Homo sapiens: one gene and its partners. The protein of the gene in region 2 purifies or fractionates together with the protein of the main gene of each other region. This does not show direct contact. Each region holds a gene or a part of one and is shown on either strand. Other genes may lie near its edges.

Region 1 (3,658 bases), on a different chromosome or scaffold from region 2:
AGAGGACTTGAAAGTACTTAAGCGGTGGAGAAAACCTTGGTTTGACTAGGTGGGTAAGAATGCTCATGTCAGGAGAACAGATGCTAAAGAAGAAATGCCAATTCTTACAACTTCCTTGAACTTGATTTCCTGTTGACCAATGGAGAAGGCAAGATCTGCTGGCTTTAGTTCAGCTGTGTGCATGCTATTTAAATCAATTACCAAAGTGCCAGACCACTTGCCAATAAAAAGACCTGGGTTTTTTTTTTTTTTTTTTTTTTTTTGCCACGTGTACCTGCTTGGTTCTTTATTCTTCAAATTTTGAGATTCTCAGGTCCATGACATACCTCTACATGCCCTAGTTTTAACACTTCTTTCCAGGAAAGGCTTCATTATGACAAATCCCTGTCTGGGATGACAAAGTGTTTCTTCCACAGAATATCCATTTCCTTTCCAGTCCTACCACTTCCCTTTATTTGGGATTTGGCAAGGTGTTTACTTGTCCTAGGGATGTCTTTCCCAGCTTCTCACACAACTTTGCCACACCACACTTATAAGCAGGTAAGCATTCCTATTAGTAAAATTAGTAAGATGGGCTTCAAGCACAACCTTAAACTGCCTTGATTCTACTGACATAATCTGTCCCCAAAGCATGGAATTTGGCAGAAACTGTTCTTGCTGTTCTGTCCATCCCTTTAGATTTCTCTCTATCAAAACCAATGGTTTTGTGATTCATGAGCAATGAAGCTTCCACCATGGGCTCCAGGAGTTCTGCTCCATTCGCTAATTCATCAAAGTGTCAGTCATCTGCCCTGTGCCTGAAAAAATGACGTGGGCAGACAGCAGTGACCTGCAAAGAAACATCTACCTTCAAGAGGTTTCCAGTCTTACATTGTTGATAAAACCCATAGAACCATGTACAGTTTGGGGTGGACTCTGGTGAAAGCTTATAGTCCAGTAGAGAAAAAAGACTGACTCCACACAGGCTTTGATGAGGGCCTTAAGAAAGAAACAGAAAGACTCAAGCTATACATGGGATTCTGTGCAAATGAGTCTGTGTGAATTTGTTCTCTGTCTATTCTTGGAGCAGAGAGGATGCACATGGATGGTAGACACTGTGCTAGGGAGCAGAAGACAGTCTAATGTGTACAGAATGCACTGATTTCAACTTTAGTTCAACATTATGCCAAACACAATTGAAGGTAAATGATTTCTGTGACCTACATGAATCATGGTTTGCACGTCAGACTTCTCTTGTTTTCTGTGCCTCGCCTCTTCCCTGCTTTTGTTTGCATTGCTTAATACTCAACAACGAGGTTTTGTTTTGTATTGTATTTTACTTCTCTTCCTTGAGACACGCCCTCCAAACACACACACCACAGTCTGTGTTGTGGAGACTGCCCTGTGCATTGTGGGGTGTTGAGCAGCATTGTCCTAGCAGCGCTGTAGGATGCTCAGTGGCCTCAATCCACTGCATGTCAATTGCACTCTCCGCCCCAGCTGTGATGACCAAAAATGTCTCCATATGTTGCCAAATGTCTTGTGGGGAAGCAAACTGCCCCCAGTTGAAAACTGCTTACTGTGTACTCAAATGGGACATGAGGTATGAACCAAAATAACAACTAGTACACTTACATAGACGTTCATAGTTTACAAGTCATACCAACCTTGTAAGATAGGACAGATGCATGATTATTCCCACTTTACAGATGAGAAAACTGAGGCTTAGAGAGGTTTAAAGGTCACAACCTACAAGTGGCAGAGCTAAGATATGAAAACTAGCAGTGTGATGTCAGGGGTAGAGCCCTCAACCACCAAAGCAGCCCTCTGCAGAGTGGCTGCAAACATGGAATGGGATCATGCCCATGAAGCACGCAGCACAGTGCCTGATGCAGAGAGGCAACCAACAAGCATATACATCATAATGTAAGACATCTGCTTTGTGATACTATGGATTTGGAATTCTAATGTCAAACCAACTTCAAAAGTGTTCTTTGAAGGCAAATGCTCCCTAGCTAGTTTCTGCTATGACCTGGTCTCCTCTCCTCTCCTCTCCACCATCCTGGGCAACACCCCTGTTTTCTCACCTCAGTGATAATGGCCTTGTGCTGTTTAATCCTCTTCAGCTCTTCTTCACAGCTCATGATGTAAGATCTGGACAGAGGCAGCGGCTTTCCATTTCGACAGAGAACTGTTTGGCACTTGCCCACATTAGCAGAGGTCAAGGTGAAGGATCCTCCTGGATCCACAGGGTCATGCTTGATATGACAAAGGACAGCGGCACCACCAAGCTTCTGCCCAGCAGTTCCAAGTTTCCTGGAATCCGAAGAGAGGGGGTGACACTCAAACACAGCCCATCAGTGCCAGTTCTGCAAATTCAACAGCAAGACCGCACCACTGGACAGGGCCAGGAAGGAGACAGCTGGGGATTCCACTCCGCCTCCTTCATCAAAGCACACACTGCTCTGCCTCTTTGATGAAAAGAGCCCCTGAATCTGACATCACACACATCCACACAGAGAGGCTCACAACTGGAAGACAGTATCACTGTACCATTAAAAGCCACAGGTGCTGCTCTGGAAGGCGGGTGCCCCTGGGCTGCTGTGTACAGCCTGCTACCCTCATCAACCACACTGCCCTATCAGCACACTCCAAAGACAGCAGGAAAATGACTTCTTTCTCCATCTGCTTCTCTAAATCCCCTCTGTCCCCAGGAAAGGAACATTGAAAAAACCATGTATGTAAGAGCAGGTATAAACACCCTACCCCACTGACAGGCACACTTTAGAAAAACCTGACAACCCTCTCCCCCTTATAAGGGTGTTTGCTGGTAGCAGCCTTGAAGTATTGGAGTGTTCATGTTCCTGCCCTATATAGTAAAGACTTTCTGGACCAGCACCATCTATTCTAGAAAACTCATAGAAAGGACATTCTAGTAATCAAATACCAAGTGCTTGTGATTTATCTTTTTAATCATGAGAATCCACAGACCTACCAAATACAGAAAGCACCTGCAAATTCTGAAAATCAAAAATCAAAAACCCCTCTTACAAAGCTACTTGTTCTGGCAGATTATCAAGGGAGAGAAATGGCAGAGACGGACAAAAGACCATTATTGCTCCCATGGCCTCATGAACAACTATGGCAAGCCCCACAAATGGTAACACTGCCCAGGCCCCTGCTGTTCCTGAGTGGTACAGGAGCAAGAAAGTTAAGAAAAACAGCCTCCCGTTTTACAAGGGCAGACCCTCAGGTACTGTCTGCTCCTATCACGTGTGTAAGGTAAGCAACTGGCAAGAAGAGCAATGGAAACCAGGGCTGCCTACTTGCATGCATTAGGAAATCCCGCACAAAGACCAGTTCCCCTAAGGACCAAAAGCTCACCACACAACCCGTACCCTCTTAACAGATAGGGAAAATAAGAGACATACAAAAGACCCTGGAGAAGGGCCTATAGTTTAGGTTCCTAAACTCCAACTTTCAGATATTTGGCTCTAGACCCTTCCAAGGCATCTCTACTTTCTCCCTTTCACAGGCACAGTGATTTGTAAAAAGTATAGCAAGTAATCCGAGACTGGGGTTCTCAGTTTTTAATTCTTACCCAGTGCTTGAGGGTGCATAAAAAGCAGACCTTTTGGGGGTTGTGAAGGGATGTGTTTGTGCTGTGGTCTGTATGCAC
Region 2 (2,726 bases):
CAGAAAGGCATGAAGACGAAAAGATTCGGGGTTGATTCAAATGGAAGAAAGCACAACTCACTTCACGGGTAACAATTTTTATTTGAAAACACAGGTTTCACAAGAAAATCATCTTTTTTTTTAAATTGTGACTTTTATCTTAACACTCTGTGAAGTACTCAAGGTCCAAGAAGCTTAATGGTCATTTGTCAAAATAGTAATTATCTAATTTTTTCCTATGAATTATGAAATTTTTTCAAAGCCGGAAATAAACCAATGGAAACAAATAAAAAGTACCTAGAATTTCCTCAATGGAATGCCTGCCCTTATTACCTTTGAGTCTGATGTATATGAATTTAAACCATTTTGTAAAATTGCAAATCCAATCACACTTAATACTTTAGGATTCCAAGCAAAGCTTGAAGCCTACAACATATTACAGGAATTATCTTTACTGACAACTGATGGAAACATCTCTAAAATAAGCTTTTGAAGTTAGTACATTAAGCCTAATTTAATATAAAGGCAATTTAATCTTACCTTCATATGAAAGAAAAATACACTGTCAGGATGAAGGATTTACTGAAGTTATAATTAACTGGAGATATATCACCAGTAAAAACCTAATTCCCTGTTATAATTAAATCAAAGCCTCATCAGGTTAGAGGGTGTGGAAGGGCGTGACCCAGTGGGAGGTGGGAATCTCACCAATAAAAGGCCCTCGTGTGCCCCTTCCCCACAAGACCTGAGCGCCCAGTGGAAGCAGCTGGAGGACAGAGGAGCTTCCAGCAGAAGAGGTGAGCCCATGCCTGTGTGTGTGTTTTTCCTCTTAGATGCCTAGAAATGGGGGTTATGACTTGGGGGGATGAATGAGAGAAATTCGTAATTAATGAATTCAACAAAGGCCGTCTGAGTGCTGCCTCAGAGTTGGAAACCAGTCACCCTGGATCCCCAGTCTAGGAGTGTAAGAGTGGTGGCAGTCAATTTGGTATTCACTTCCAAGGCTGGAGAAGGATGTAATTTTTTTTATTTTTTTATTTTTTTATTTTTTGGTGAGACGGGTCTTAACTCTGTTGTCCAGGTTGGAGTGACTTGGCGTGATCTCTGCTCTCTGCTAATTTTTGTATTATTTGTAGAGACAGGGTCTTCCTGTGTTGCCCAGACTGGTCTCAAACTCCTCGGTTCAAGGGATCTTCCTGCCTCGGCCTCGCAAAATGCTGGGATTACAGATGTGAGCTACTGCATCCAGCCCCTCTTTTTTTTTTTTTTTTTTTTTTTTGAGATGGTGTCTCACTCTGTTGCCCAGGCCAGAGTGCAATGGCAGGATCTCGGCTCACTGCAACCTCTGCCTCCCAGGTTCAAGTGATTCTCCTGCCTCAGCCTCCCAAGTATCTGGGATTACAGGCATGTGCCACCACGCCTGGCTAATTCTTTTGTATTTTCAGTAGAGATGGGGTTTCCCCATGTTGGTCAGGCTGGTCTCGAACTTTTGACGACCTCAGATGATCCACCCACCTTGGCCTCCCAAAGTGCTGGACAGGCATGAGCCATCGTGCCCGGCCTCCCAGCCCCTAATTCTTATGTTCATCAATCAGTCTCTTGCTGGGGTTCCCCTAGGAGGAGGTGAAATGACCCCAGCTCGCTGTTCCTCACATGGGTGCTGCCATGTCACTGGCTCAGGCTCAGCTGCTGGGTCACCAGGAGAATGGACGCTTCCTCCACCTCAGCTCAGAGCACAGTGATGATTCGTGACTTTCCCAATAGAACTTCAAATCTCTGAAGACGGGGGGTGGGGGGATGTGCTTGAGTGTTTGTACTCATGGTCTTATTCTCGGAGTGACAAAGCTGGAACACAATACCTCTATGCATGAAAAGGTTGTCACTTGTCACAACTAACAGGCTTTCACCTCATGGAAATTTTTTTACCTTGTGTACTTTTCCCCTGGCAGTGGACATGGCTGCACTCTTCCAAGAAGCAAGCAGCTGTCCCGTCTGCTCAGACTATCTGGAAAAACCAATGTCCCTGGAGTGTGGATGCGCCGTCTGCCTCAAGTGCATTAATTCACTGCAGAAGGAGCCCCATGGGGAGGATCTACTTTGCTGTTGCTCTTCCATGGTCTCTCGGAAGAACAAAATCAGGCGCAATCGGCAGCTAGAGAGGCTGGCTTCCCACATCAAGGAACTGGAGCCCAAGCTGAAGAAGATTCTGCAGATGAACCCAAGGATGCGGAAGTTCCAAGGTAAGGCATCTGTATACCCTGCCCCCTTCCCAAGACCAGACCAGGAAAAATCATTTGTGCAGTTGGCCCCTCATTCCACATGGGGATTAGCTGCTGTCTGGCACCTAAAATTGAGATGCTTCATCATCAGATTCTCAGCCCTGACAACATACAGAATCACCTGGTGATGTCAAAAACAAAAACAAACAAAAACCCGATGTCTATGTCATGGGTTAGACAAGGGATTCTCTAAACTTAGTGTGCTCAGATTACCTGGGGATCTTGTTAAAATGCAGATGCTGAACTGGGAAGTCTCAGGATTGATCCCACTGGCTTGGGGACTTTGCTGAGTAGCAAAAACATAGAGCAACTGAATTTGAATTTCTCTCTAGCAAAGGTTCCCAGGACTCTAACATTAAAATGGGCCTGGTAATTCTAATGCACGGTGAATATTGGCACCCATTGTACAAACAACCTTACCCCAGGGTTGGGAAGAGTTGGGAATGGAGCACCTATGGTGTTTGTTTC
Region 3 (2,907 bases), on a different chromosome or scaffold from region 2:
AGGAAAGCCTGTTCCCCTAAGTAAGTTTGAACTTTAGTTACTTGAAAAAAGGTATAACTGAATTATGAGTGTTTATGATTTTATCTTTATTTTATTTTTTTTGAGATGGAGTCTCACCCTGTCACCCAGGCTGGAATGCAGTGGCACAATCTCGGTTCACTGCAGCCTCTACCTCTCAGGTTCAAGCAATTCTCCTGCCTCACCCTCCTGAGTAGTGGGGATTACAGGTGTGCCACCACCATGCCCGTCTCTAATTTTTATATTTTTAGTAGAGACGGGGTTTCACCATGTTGGCCAGGCTGGTCTTGAACTCCTGACCTCAAGTGATCCACCCACCTTGGCCCCCCACAAAGTGCTGGGATTACAGGCGTGAGCCACTGTGCCTGGTCTATCTTTAAATTCCTATCTGAATTTGTTTAGGTTTTTTAAATAAAAATCTTTCTTTTTTTTTAGAGACAGGGGTTCACCATGGTGCCCAGGCTGATCTCGAACTCCTCCTGGACTCAAGCTATCCTCCCACCTCAGCCTCCCAAAGTACTGGGATTACAGACATGAGCCACATGCTTGACCTGAATTTTAACTGCAGTTAATTATCACTTAACCAGCGAATTCACACAGGAGAAATCCCCTGGCCGGGCGCGGTGGCTCACACCTGTAATCCCAGCTCTTCGGGAGGCCGAGGTGGGTAGATCACAAGGTCAAGAGATCAAGACCATTCTGGCCAACATGGTGAAACTCCGTCTGTACCAAAAATACAAAAATTACCTGGGCATGGTGGTACGTGCCTGTAATCCCAGCTACTTGGCAGGCTGAGGCAGGAGCATTGCTTGAACCCATGAGGTGGAGGTTGCAGTGAGCCGAGATCACGCCACTGCACTCAAGCCTGGGTGACAGAGCAAGACTCCATCTCTACTACAAAAAAAAAAAAAAAAAAAATTCAACCACCTTAGGAAGCCTCTCATTTATGTATTTCTAGCATGTAATTAGTGTTGCACATGGGAAGGGCTAATAGATGCTGACAGAGTGAACAACTTATCTATTTTGTGTGTGTGTGTGTAACAGGGTCTCATTCTGTTGCCCAGGCTGGAATACAGTGGCATGATCACAGCTCACTGCAAACTTCAACTGCCAGGCTCAGGCAACCCTCCCACCTCAGCCTCTTGAATAGCTGGGACTGCAGGCTCATACCACCACAACCAGCTAACTTGTATTTTTAGTAGAGACAAGGTTTCGCCATGTTGCTCAGGCTAGTCTCGAACTCCTGGACTCAAGTGATCCACCTGTCTTGGCTGCCTACATTGCTGGGATTACAGGCATGAGCCACCATGCCCAGCCAAATTTTTTTTTTTTTTTAAGGGAAGGGATCTTGCTATGTTGCCCAGGCTGGTCTCAAACTCCTCAGCTCAAGCAATCTGCCCACCTCAGCCTCTGAAAGTGCTGGGATTACAGGCATGAGCCACCATGTCCAGCACACTTTAATATTCACTATGGGCCCTCAAAAGGAAATGTTTGTGGGGCCACCAAAAGCAAATGTCTCTTGAACCTAGTCACCTGGGGGGACAAGTGTGGGAAAGTGCACCTGTGTTCCCATGAGACCCACTCAAGAGGAGCAGAAATCCTGTTTTGCTATTTCCTTAATTGCTACTAGGGCTGGGATTTTTTCATGTTTATTGGCCCCTCTACATTTTTTTCTTTAAAAAAATTCACAAAGCATGTTTATATTTGTTAGCTCTTTTGATTCTCCCTATGATAGTGTGAAGACAGGGACAAAACGCTACCATTTCACACTCCCAGATCTAACAATAGCTACCAAGTAATTATGCCATGCGTTTCTTCTAACCTTCGCAATATCACTACGAGGTAGTTCTTACTATCCTCATTTTACAGATAAGGAAACTGAGGCTAAGTGACGCTGGCAGACTTGCCCAAGGCCACACAGCTGGTAACAGGGACTGGTAGTCACTTGAGTCCTACATGAGCACCCTTGCTACTACAGCAGCTCCTCCCCTTTCTAGAGGCCTAGATGGAAAGATGCTGGTGTCAGCGGGGGGCACAAAGGTCCACCCAGTCCCACACATGCAGAGAGGCATCATTTGTTGCTGATAACAAAGTCCTTGGTCTGCAGGGATGCCAGGTGTGGGTGGTGACCAAAGGAGCAGGGTCCATCCCATTTCCATCTAGGAAGATGTGACCTCTGTGAGTGAAGAGAGGTTCTACTTGGCTCCGTGTTCCATCTTGGCTCCGTGTTCCATCCCAAGATGTGGCATCATAGACCTGGACTGTACCATCAAAACCTGAGAATACAGAAAAGAGAGGCTTGACAATGAGTCCCTAATTTTATTTTAAAATAATTTTCTTTCTATTTTTAATAGAGATGGGGTTTCACCATGTTGACCAGGATGGTCTTGAACTCCTAGCCTCAAGCGATCCTCCCATCTCAGCCTCCCAAAATGCTGGGATTACAGGCACCCAGCCCCTAAAATACTTTTTATAATTTGTTCTATGGTACCAAAACAGGCTATTGGATGAGGAATCAAGGCACTTAAAAGGCTAACCACGGGCAAGTAGCATCTGCCCTCAGTGTTGGCAGCTGATGACTCCGTGGGGCATGTAACCATGAGCATCCGTTGTGCACCTGTTATGCGTGAGGCTCGAAGGCTAATTCTGGACAAGTATTAGCTCTTTTAATCCTCAGAACTGTATGACACAGATACTGTTATTTTACCCAGGAAACTGAGGCTTAAGAGACTTCTTCAAACCTTTTCAAGTTGCCCCAGAGTCCAGTCCCCTACCTCTGGGTCCCTTTCAGCAGATGGCCTTGTCTCCTACTCGATGGGGGAAACAGAAGCCTTTGGAGAGAAATACCTTCACGTCCCTGCACGATCTAGCTGCACACACACTCATTCC

The links.
Region 1: the proteins of RFPL2 (region 2) and PHLPP1 purify together in Homo sapiens (affinity purification with mass spectrometry; 3 studies listed by BioGRID and IntAct, with this or other methods). This does not show direct contact.
Region 3: the proteins of RFPL2 (region 2) and WDR73 purify together in Homo sapiens (affinity purification with mass spectrometry; 3 studies listed by BioGRID and IntAct, with this or other methods). This does not show direct contact.

The regions. Positions count from the first base shown.
Region 1 is NC_000018.10:62,974,034-62,977,691, reverse strand, and holds part of PHLPP1 (PH domain leucine-rich repeat-containing protein phosphatase 1), read right to left. Parts: intron 2,296-3,658; coding exon 2,067-2,295; intron 1-2,066. UniProt on the Homo sapiens protein: Protein phosphatase involved in regulation of Akt and PKC signaling.
Region 2 is NC_000022.11:32,192,395-32,195,120, reverse strand, and holds part of RFPL2 (ret finger protein-like 2), read left to right. Parts: intron 1-630; coding exon 631-776; intron 777-1,928; coding exon 1,929-2,219; intron 2,220-2,726.
Region 3 is NC_000015.10:84,641,430-84,644,336, forward strand, and holds part of WDR73 (integrator complex assembly factor WDR73), read right to left. Parts: intron 2,295-2,907; coding exon 2,041-2,294; 3' UTR 1-2,040. UniProt on the Homo sapiens protein: Component of a multiprotein complex required for the assembly of the RNA endonuclease module of the integrator complex. Associates with INTS9 and INTS11 in the cytoplasm, stabilizing the INTS9-INTS11 heterodimer and blocking the active site of INTS11.